3 linked regions of the Homo sapiens genome follow. The protein of the gene in region 1 purifies or fractionates together with the protein of each later gene. This does not show direct contact. Each region holds a gene or a part of one and is shown in the gene's direction. Other genes may lie near its edges.

What was found.
Region 2: the proteins of METTL13 (region 1) and PTPN2 fractionate together in Homo sapiens (co-fractionation; one large-scale study listed by BioGRID). This does not show direct contact.
Region 3: the proteins of METTL13 (region 1) and PFKP fractionate together in Homo sapiens (co-fractionation; one large-scale study listed by BioGRID). This does not show direct contact.

Annotation. Positions count from the first base shown.
Region 1 is NC_000001.11:171,794,931-171,798,361, forward strand, and holds the end of METTL13 (eEF1A lysine and N-terminal methyltransferase), read left to right. Parts: intron 1-1,551; coding exon 1,552-1,826; 3' UTR 1,827-2,786; downstream 2,787-3,431. UniProt on the Homo sapiens protein: Dual methyltransferase that catalyzes methylation of elongation factor 1-alpha (EEF1A1 and EEF1A2) at two different positions, and is therefore involved in the regulation of mRNA translation.
Region 2 is NC_000018.10:12,828,627-12,832,278, reverse strand, and holds part of PTPN2 (tyrosine-protein phosphatase non-receptor type 2), read left to right. Parts: intron 1-1,237; coding exon 1,238-1,336; intron 1,337-3,652. UniProt on the Homo sapiens protein: Non-receptor type tyrosine-specific phosphatase that dephosphorylates receptor protein tyrosine kinases including INSR, EGFR, CSF1R, PDGFR.
Region 3 is NC_000010.11:3,108,994-3,112,645, forward strand, and holds part of PFKP (ATP-dependent 6-phosphofructokinase, platelet type), read left to right. Parts: intron 1-361; coding exon 362-487; intron 488-3,228; coding exon 3,229-3,293; intron 3,294-3,652. UniProt on the Homo sapiens protein: Catalyzes the phosphorylation of D-fructose 6-phosphate to fructose 1,6-bisphosphate by ATP, the first committing step of glycolysis.

The DNA of each region.
Region 1 (3,431 bases):
CACCTCAGTCACCTGAGTAGCTGGGACTACAGGTGGATGCCACCATGCCTGGCTAATTTTTTTATTTTTATTTTTTGTAGAGATAGGATCTCAACATGTTGCCCAGGCTGGTCTCAAACTCCTAGCCTCAAGCGATCCTCCTACCTTGGCCTCCCAAAGTGCTGGGATTACAGGCATGAGCCACTGAACTTGGCTGAATGTACTCTTTAAGTGTCCATTTTCTTTCACTCAACATGATGTTTGTGAGACTCATTCACAGTGTTGTGTTTACATGGCTTATTTTTATTGCTGTGTTATATCATGTAACTTAACACAATTCGCTTATCCATTCTACTGTTCGTATTTGGTTTGTTTCCTGTGTGGGTCTATTATAAGTGGTGCTGCCATTAACATTCTAGTATATGCCTTTTGATGAATTATGTTTTCAGATCTCTTGGGTATATACACAGGGTTGTAATTGCTGGATCATAGGTTATGGGTATGTTTTTGGCTTTTGTAGATGCTACCACACAGTTTTACAAAGTGGTTGTAGCAGTTCACACTCCCACCAGCATGGTGATGCTAGCTACTACATGATGCTTCCTACACGTGCTCTACTAGGCAGTGTGTTATTTAATCTTCATAGCAGTCCACTTTTTGGATGAGGAAACTGAGGTTGAAGATTTGCCAAGGTGACGCAAGGTAACAGTTGGGGCTCAAAGTCAGTGCCTTGTCACCTCAAAACTGGAGCCTTTAATCCCTATGTTAACAACCCTCTAGGTATTTTTGATTTGGTGTAAGGCACTGTGGTAACTGGCTTGATTTGGAATCTTAATTGTCAGAAGTCAAGATAACCTCGGCCCTGTCACTGGTTAATACTCTATGGTGTGTATGCCAAGAATGTAATATCCCTGTGGAGTTGGTAAATTTTACTTTCGTAGGGAATCACTTTCTATTGATTGATTGAGACAAAGTCTCATTCCGTCACCCAGGCTGGATTTTGGCTCACTGCAACCTCTGCCTCCTGGGTTCAAGAGATTCTCCTGCCTCAGCCCCACTAGCAGCTCCTGCCTCAGCCTCCCTAGCAGCTGGGATTACAGGCGTCCACCACCATGCCCAGCTAATTTTTATATTTTTAGTAGAGCCGGGGTTTCACCATTTTGGCCAGGCTGGTCTCAAACTCCTGACTTCGAGTGATCCGCCTGCCTCAGCCTCCCAAAGTGATGGGATCATAGACATGAGCCACCGTGCCCAGCTGGGAATCACTTCTTTCTCAAAGCTATTCTTTGAGAAGCTATTTGGGAAACTGAGGCTTGGAGAATGGTAAAATAACATGTGAGCAGCACAGAAGAGCAAGAAATAAGGCTGGAGTTTGTTTATGGCTCACATGCTCCCCATGCTTTTCTCCATCTGCCTTTCTATGCTGTGTATTCTCTGCAAACTCATCACCACCGTGTGTTTTAGTCCACCAGTCTCCCTGGGACAGGAATTGGTATTTTCCTCAAAGCCGATCCTTGTCTTTCATATGTCTCCTGATGTGAGGTCATTCTGACTTTTCTTCCTACCCTATAGGTGTTTTTATTCTCAACCTTGTGTGCCGAGACTTGGGGCTAAAAGACTCAGTGCTGGCTGGGCTCAAGGCAGTGTTCCCCCTCCTATATGTCCGGCGAATTGAGGGTGAAGTGAATGAGATCCTGTTCTGTCAGCTGCACCCTGAGCAAAAACTTGCCACACCAGAGCTCCTAGAAACAGCCCAGGCTTTGGAGCGGACCCTGAGGAAGCCTGGGAGGGGTTGGGATGACACGTATGTCTTGTCAGATATGCTCAAGACGGTGAAAATTGTGTGACTGCTTAGGCCAAGCAGCCCTCCTGCCTAGACTGACCTTGGACTCCCAGCCTGCCAGAGAATGAAGAAATACAACGCACAGTACTTTTGAAGCTTCGTATTTTTCTTGGTTTCACACTCAGCTACATGTGACCTCCAGCTTGGTGAGGTTGCCTGAAGATTAGGGAAAATAAAAATGTCCTTCCCATCTTGTCCTCTTCAGTACCACTTGGGTTGGTTTGTCTTTGCTTCCTACACCACGTCCTTGAGTGGAGTTCCCTGCTGAAGCCCCTAGCACACACTGCATGCCTTAACAAGTGTGTGCAAGCCCCTCAGAACTCAAGACATCCAAATTTTATTGCGTCTCTACTTATACTGGTTTGCTTTTGATTTATTCCTCTATTAGTTCTATAGGAGTGATCTCAAGTGAGATAGCAGAGCAAGATGCCAAAAGACCATAAATAGAGTAAGGTTTCTATAGATGTGAGACAGATTTGAGAGAGCATTTACTCTGTCTCCCTGTGGATGAAACTGCTGCTGAAATGGTTCCAATTTTTAGGAATCTGCTTACCCACTTCATTATTTGACAGCTTTCCTTGGTGACCCAAACCTTGTAGCCTAAGCCATTTGTCTTTTTCTCAGTGGAGGGAGTGTATGGACCTGGCCCCATGGCTTTGCATGTTAGAGACCTGGCAGACTAAAGTCTCTAGTGTTTGTTTGCTCACATTTGCTGAGTGACAGCTATGTGCCAGACTGCATAAAGGGTGGTGGCAGAAGTGAAAATGTTTAAGAATGACCAAAAACATTAGTAATGAAAGTTAATGTGTTCCAGGCATTCTTCTAAGTGGTTTACATGCACTGTCTCATTTAATCTGAGATAAAGGATACTTAAGCCCAAACTATATCTAAACCCAAATCTCACTTGGCTGGAAACATCAATCTTAACCATTTATTCAGAACCATTAAACCAATGATTCCAAGACTGGCTTGAATTTTGTCTTTCCTAATTATACCGAGGTTGACTTAATGAGCAGTGCCATGGAAAATAGGCATTGTCACCATTCACCACCTGGCTCTTCTTTCCACAGGCCCTTTAAAAATGGACCCTGACCTTTCAGTTGAAGCATACAGATGCTCTTCAGCCTACGATGGGGTTATATCCTGATAAATCCATCATAAGTAGAAAATGCATTTAATACCCTGATAACCCATTGTAAACTTGAAAAATTGTAAGTCAGAGACTGTCTGTATTTCAGTTAGGTTGTCATCCTTAGAAAGTAGTGTCAGTCTGTTAAGGAGAGGAGGGAGTGCAGAGAAGTGTTTTTAGATCTTACCCATTAGAAATACTTGGTTCTCTTTCTTTAGGAGGGGATCTTCCCCTGGAACCCCGTAACGGGAAGATTATCCCTCATGTCAGGTCTGTGTACCCCAGAGGACCTTACTTGGCAAGTCCTTTCTTTTTTCTTCCTTGTTTTTGAGACAAGGTCTCTGTCACCCAGGCTGGAGTGCATTGGCACCATCACGGCTCACCGCAGCCTTGACCTTTTGGGCTCAGATGATCCTCCCAACTCTCAGCCTTCCAGGTAGCTGGGACTACAGCATGTACCACCATACCTGGCTCATTTTT
Region 2 (3,652 bases), on another chromosome or scaffold:
CAGGTGTGGTGGCGGGTGCCTATAATTCCAGCTCCGTGGGAGGCTTAGGCAGGAGAATCTCTTGAACCTGGGAAGTGGAGGTTGCAGTGAGCTGAGATCGTGACACTGCACTCTAGCCCGGGTGACAGAGACACCATCTCAAAAAATAAAAAATGCTTTTAGTCTAGAACCACTTTAACCCCCTTGTTGTATGTGGGTCTGAAGCTCTGGGCAGCCCTAGCCCCCACTCCTGACTCTGCCCCTAACTCATACCACTCTGCTACATTCCATGTGAGTTGAATGCATGTTCATAGTTATTTTAGGTGTAGCAAAACTACATCTCATTTTAACCTTCTCATTTAAAACTCGTTAAAATTTGTACATAGGCTTTTCATCTCTTATTAGATCTTCCTTTTGCCCTATGCTATCATTAAAATGTGAAAGCAATTGGAAATACATGAAATATTTTGCTTTTATCCCCATGGCATTGTTGTAACATGGACTGTTGCCCCTTTTTAACTCTGCCCAATACTCTTCCATTGAGGCCGTACATACTGTGCATTTGTAGATTAACAGTTTCATTGTGGTTCAGGTACTTTAATGATTCCTACTTTTTCTAGAAATCTTTTTGTAGTTGACTTGAGTTGGTTGGCTGGCCAGTGATGGTACAGACTTTTTTCTCATGGATTTTCTATGATGTGTGGGAGGCACATCCTCTTGGCTGTAGAAGATGAAGAGGACAGAAATTTCCTTGGTCTACCTTCTTTGCAGCTAGAACATGATCAGTCAGATACTCCTACTCGTGATTTTGTCTCTGATTTGCCTATAGATTGTACATGAATACTATAGCCACCTTCATATGGCAGTGCCAGCAAAAGCAAGGAGATAGTAGTGACGGTATCAAGAGCAGCATCCCAGGTTGACTTTCTTTGGGGCAGGACCTTGCTTGTGTCTTAACCCTTGGTTCCTACCCAAGTTTGTCTCTCTAGTCCTCAACTCTGAAAGCCACTTGATATCTTACACAATTCCTTTTTTGCCTGAGAAAATAAAAGTCAGTTTTGATCATTTACAACCAAAAATCCTAACTAACACAGACCTGTTTTTGAAATCAGGTAGATTGGAAGTCTTGGTTTACTTCTTATAAGCCCGTCCGCTGTCTGTCTTGTAACATCCCAGGAGCAGACTTAACAAGGCCTTCCTGGAGCCTTGCTCTTTCTGTCTGCTTCCCTCATCTGCTCTCTCTCCTCTCTCTTCACAGGGTCCACTTCCTAACACATGCTGCCATTTCTGGCTTATGGTTTGGCAGCAGAAGACCAAAGCAGTTGTCATGCTGAACCGCATTGTGGAGAAAGAATCGGTGAGTAATATTTAATATTTACAACTTAGTATACTGTATGTGATCATTAGCATATAAAGATTTTCATTTTGGGGCCAATATTCATTCCTTAGTTTTGGCCTTTAATTGCTAAAGGCTAGCGGTCAAAGTGTTTCTGTCCGGAAAAACTCATGTATCCTTTTCCTTTCTTAAGTATTTTTATAACAATTGCAGACCTTTCATCTCCAAGATAGAAATACAATGGAATAAATATGGACTAGCAGTGACATATAGATCTTTGGAATCCCTAGGAATCCTTATTGACCTATTGTCAATAAGTCCTCTTCCAGCTTTAAGATCTTGTACTGTTCTACTTCAGATTTCTTACTTTATTCTACATTTCATAATTGCTGGTTTTTAATGATGATGAAAATTTCCTAATCCACTTCTAATTAGATGTGGCAATGACATGCCAGAATTTCCAGCAGTATCAGCATAGTCATTTACAGGGGTTTTTCCTGATCTTCAATATCATTTAAAAATTAAGGATTAGGCCAGGCACGGTGCCTCAAACCTGTAATCCCAGCACTTTGGGAGGCCGAGGCAGGCAGATCACTTGAGGTCAGGAGTTTGAGACCAGCCTGGCCAACATGGTGAAACCCCGTCTCTACTAAAAATACAAAATTAGCCAGGTGTAATGCTAGCTACTTGGGAGGCTGAGGCAGGAGAACCGCTTGAACCTAGGAGGTGGAGGTTGCAGTGAGCCGAGATTGTGCCACTGCACCTCAACCTGGATGATAGAATGAGACTCCATCTCAAAACCCACTGCACTGCAGCCTGGGCGGTAGAGTGAGACTCCATCTCAAAAAAGAAAAAAAAAAAAATCAAGGATTATGACATTGTCAGTTTGAGCACCATTGTAGACTACATGATTTGCAAATTTTATTTCTCTCATTTTGGAGTATAATTACTGTATTAATAAGATAACACTGCCACCAGAATTTAGAAATCATGTTTATGGTGGTTGAACCTAGATGGTTAACAAGAGTCAGGTTTAATTATTTTGGGGAAGATTACTTCAGAGGTGGTGGGTAATGTGTTATTCATCAAGAGACCCATAATGTCTGATTATTGTTCTTTTTATTTCATTAATAGCCATTATTGGTCAGTGTTCAGCTTCTTAATTCATTATGGGTTACAAATGATGATAATCCAATTCTGTCATTACTTCTCTTAAAAGCAGTTTTCCAAAAAAAAGTTGATTCCCTATTGAGGTCATCTGTTCTCAACAGATGACCAATTAGGAGTTTTTCTGGTGGAGAGTGGCAGGAGAGGTTGAATTATTATGGGTTTGGACATACTGGATTAATTTTACTCCTTTGCAGTTATTTTCCTTATTTTTGATCAAATTACCCTGTCATTGGCTAGCAGCAATGTCTTTAGGTTGGGTCCTGAGTCCTCTTTTTTTTTTTTTTTTTTTGGAGACAGAGTCTCGCCTGTTGCCCAGGCTGGAGTGCAGTGGCATGATTTCAGCTCACTGCAGCCTCCACTTCCCGGGTTCAAGAGATTCTCCCGTCTCAGCCTCCCGAGCAACTGGGATTACAAGCACCCACCACCATGCCCAGCTAGTTTTTGTAGAGATGGTTTTACCATGTTGGCCAGGCTGGTCTCAAGTTCCTGACCTCAAGTGATACGCCCACCTCGGCCTCCCAAAGTGCTGGGATTACAGGCGTGAGCCACCTCACCCAGCTCTGAGTCCTTTTTAACAAACCTTTAATAGTTTCCTTGGCTGGGTGCAGTGGCTCACACCTGTAATCTCAGCACTTTGGGGAGCTGAGTTGGGTGGATCGCTTGAGCCCAGGAGTTTGAGACCAGCCTGGGCAACATGGTGAAACTCTGTCTCTACAAAAAATACAAAAATTAGCTGGGTGTGGTGGCGCATGCCTGTAGTCCCAGCTACCTGGGGTACTGAGGCAGGAGGATCACTTGAGGCCAGGAAGTCAAGGCTACAGTTAGCTATGGTCGTGCCACTGCACTCCAGCCTGGGGACAGAGCGAGACCCTGTCTCAAAAAAAAAAAATTTTTTTTGCTGTCTGTAATGACTGCATCTCAGGCTCATCTCAAACTCTTGCTGCCCAGACCTGGAACCAGCCATTTCTCTAAGGAGTTTTGGTTTCTTTTAATGGGCAGCAGTATTTCAAGATCACAGCAAAAATAAGGATATATATTGCAACTGGACTGGTCATTGTTTTTAGGGCTTTTCAGTGGACAAAAGCTAAGGAACAATATGCATATGTTAAGATAACATACTTCAAGAGTTCATAATGATATTCCCAGTTCAAATTTGGAACTATAAGT
Region 3 (3,652 bases), on another chromosome or scaffold:
TCCCTAATGTGGGAAGGCAGTGCTTGGTGTTGGCACGACGTGGACCCCAGAGGGCACAATCCCAGGGCAGAAAGGCTGTGTTTCTAGTGAGTTTCTGGAAACTGACTCAGGGCAGCAGGAATCCCAAGTACAAACCCTCAGTTCTTAACACTCCTGCTCTCCATGTGCCCTGACCTCCTCTCTGTTCCCGTCTTGCCAGTTCTAAAGGAGTGGAAATCGCTTTGCTCTAAAGAGTTGGGCTGGAAGCGGGAGGGGCTGTGAGCACCTGACTGAGGTCATTGGACGTCATGGAAAGATAGGAGGTGACAGGGACAGGGCAGGACGGGAGGCTGCCCCTGACCCACATGGACCTGGTTTCCAGGCCAGCCGCATGGGAGTGGAGGCAGTCATCGCCTTGCTAGAGGCCACCCCGGACACCCCAGCTTGCGTCGTGTCACTGAACGGGAACCACGCCGTGCGCCTGCCGCTGATGGAGTGCGTGCAGATGGTGAGTGGGCAGCCCATGGCCAAGGGCAGGGCGGAGACGGCTGGGACAGAAGCTGCTTGTCAGGCCAGCCTGGGCACCTTGGGTGTCTCGTCGGTGCACGATGCATTACACGGCCTTTCTGAGAAGGAGGTGAGCTGCCCGTGGGGAGGGAGAAGGCTTATGTTCTCTCCCACACCTGCAGAGCCTGCGCCGTCTTCGCTCTTTGGTTTTCTAAGTTACCATCCATCTGTGTGGCACATAGTCGTAACCTCCCCTGAGTGGGGGTCTAGAGCATCGGGATCCTCAACAGTCGAGGATCCAGGTGGCCCCAGTGCACCAGGTGCTGCAGAAGGACAGAGTGCAGGGAGGCAGCCGAGAGAGAGAGATCCGTGGACAGACTGCAGGGAGGCGGGCGTGAGAGAGACCCATGGGGCAGAGGGGGCAGGGAGGCAGGGAGGCGGGCGTGAGAGAGATCTACAGGGTGGTATTTTGTAGGGGAAGGTGGGACCTTCCCAAACTTCTCCAGTTTCAGCCATTTCCTGTCCTCCTATCCCCAAGGACATTCAGGTCTGTGATGGGACACAGGGAAAGCTCTGGTCACCCGAAGATACACCCACCCTTCTTGGGCCAGGGAACTGTCTGCCTGCAAATGAACAAAGGGAAAAGCAGTTCCAGCTTTTCAGGCATTGGTTCAGTAGTGGAGGTGGCTGTGGAGTTAGCTGCATTTGAAGTTATTTAATTAATTAATTTATTTATTTAGAGACGGAGTCTCACTGTTGCCCAGGCTAGAGTGCAGTGGCGTGATCTTGGCTCACTGCAAGCTCCGCCTCCTGGGTTCACGCCATTCTCCTGCCTCAGCCTTCCGAGTAGCTGGGACTACAGGTGCCCACCACCACGCCTGGCTAATTTTTTTTTTTTTTTTTTTTTTTTGTATTTTTAGTAGAGGTGGGGTTTCACCGTGTTAGCCAGGATGGTCTGGATCTCCTGACCTTGTGATCCATCCACCTCGGCCTCCCAAAGTGCTGGGATTACAGGCATGAGCCACCACGCCCAGCTGTTGTTTTATTTTTCAGAGTTCATTCATGATTCGTGACTCCTGTTTTGTTGCCTCTTAACACACACAAAGAAGTCGTGAAGCAATCAAGTCAGGGACTTGTTGAAAGTCACCTTGTAAACATAATTTCCAAAAGCCCAAGGGAGAAAATAGTATTTGTGTGTATGTGTGTGAGTGTGTGCGCAGGCTTGTGTCTCTGTGTGTATGTATGTATATGTGTGTGCATGTGTATCTCTGTATATGCATATACATGCAGGTTTATGCATATATTTATGCATGTGTGTGCATGTTTGTGAGGTAGTTTGGGTCTGCATGTATGTGTATGTTTATATGCATGAGTATGCATGTTTGTGGTAGTATGTCTGCATGTATGTGTGTGCATGTTTGTGTGCATGCATGTTTGTACGTGTGTGCATGTTTTTGTGAGGTAGTGTGTGTGCATGTTAGTGTGTGTGCATGTGTGTATATGCATGTGTACATTTGAGTGTGAGGTAGTATGTTTCTGCATGTTAGTGTGTGCATGTATGTTTATATGCATGTGTATATATGTGTGTGAGGTAATGCATCTGCATGTGTGTGCATGTATGCTTATATGCATGTGTGAGCATGTTTGAGATAGTGTGTGCATGTCTGTGTGTGCATGTGTTTATATGGATGTGTGTGTATGTTTGTGAGAGGTAGTATGTGCCTGCATGTTTGTGTGTGTGTGCAGGTATGTTTCTATGCAGATGTGTGCATGTTGGCATGAGTGTGAGGTAGCGTGTGTCTGCATGTTTGTGTGTGCAGGTATGCTTATGTGCATATGTGTGTATGTTGGAGTGTGAGGTAGTGTGTGTCTGCACGTTAGTGTGTGCCTGTGTGCATGTGAGAGGCAGTAGGCTTAAAAGGCTCAGAGCACTGAACGACATGCGGTACGTGTATTTTGAGCCTGTGTCTCATGTCTCTGCTTGTCTAGAGACGACCGTGGTAGGTGTCACTTGCCCTGACCTTGAAACCACCCTTGTGTGGCTTTGTTTTTAAAGCTGAGGGACCACTACTGTGCACCTGCTGTTTGTCAGGCGTCTTCCTGAGGGTCTGACATGCTTGAATAACCTTAGAGATAGCTGGAAGTAGGAGTATTTTTCTCATCTTACAGATGAGGAAATTGAAGTTCAGAGCGAGAAAGAACTTGACCAAGATCCTGACGTTGCCCAGGGCTGCCTGGCGTGCATCAGTCCCAGCCCCGTGTCCCAGGGCCTCCATCCGGGCCCCTCTGCTCCCCCGCCCGCTGTGACCTCGCTCCCATCCCACATCCCCCAGTGAGCTGGTGTGTTCTGTTTTGTTTTTCCCCACCATAATCAAATTGAGAATTCCTTAGAACCATGCCTGAGAGATTTCATTTCCTCTGGCTTTGTTCTCTTGGAGTTAAATCTTCACAGTGTTGTGTCCACAAACAGCAGGTGACACCTTCTCTTTTTCCTCAGAAGCCTCCTGAGCTAAGCAGTCCCAGGGCTCTGACCTCACAGCCGGGCCGTGTGGGGCTGGCTGCCAACCAGCATTAGGACACACTTGGCGGCCGGTCGTCTAGACCATTAACCCTGGGGCTGCTGGCTGCCCGGGTCAGACTGGAGGGGGCTGGTGGGAAGGACCGAGCCAGTCTCTACCTACCCCATCCATGATGCACCAGGTCCTGACACATTCTTTCTTCTTTTCATCATTGTTTTAAAAGACTCAGGATGTGCAGAAGGCGATGGACGAGAGGAGATTTCAAGATGCGGTTCGACTCCGAGGGAGGTGAGGTGCTTTGGAGAAAGCTCTGCCCTGTCAGGAACACACACCCCTCAGGCCCAGCCACTGCAAACGTGCTTAGGGGTTGTGCTTATTCCATGTCACTGTGAAAAATCAGAAAGTCAGGCAGTACTCACAGCACCGCTCTTGCAGTAGCAGGCCCTGGTGACTGGTTAGAGAGAAATCATTTTCTAAATTTGCCATTGGTCCTTTTTGGTAAGGTGATGGTTGTTTAGGAGCTAATGAGATTAAGGCACAAGGTGACTTGTGGCCCTTTAACAACAAACCAAAACAAAAAAAGGAGTCTCCTTCTGTTGCCTAGGCTAAAGTGCAGTGGTGCCATCTCAGCTCCCTGCAATCTCTGC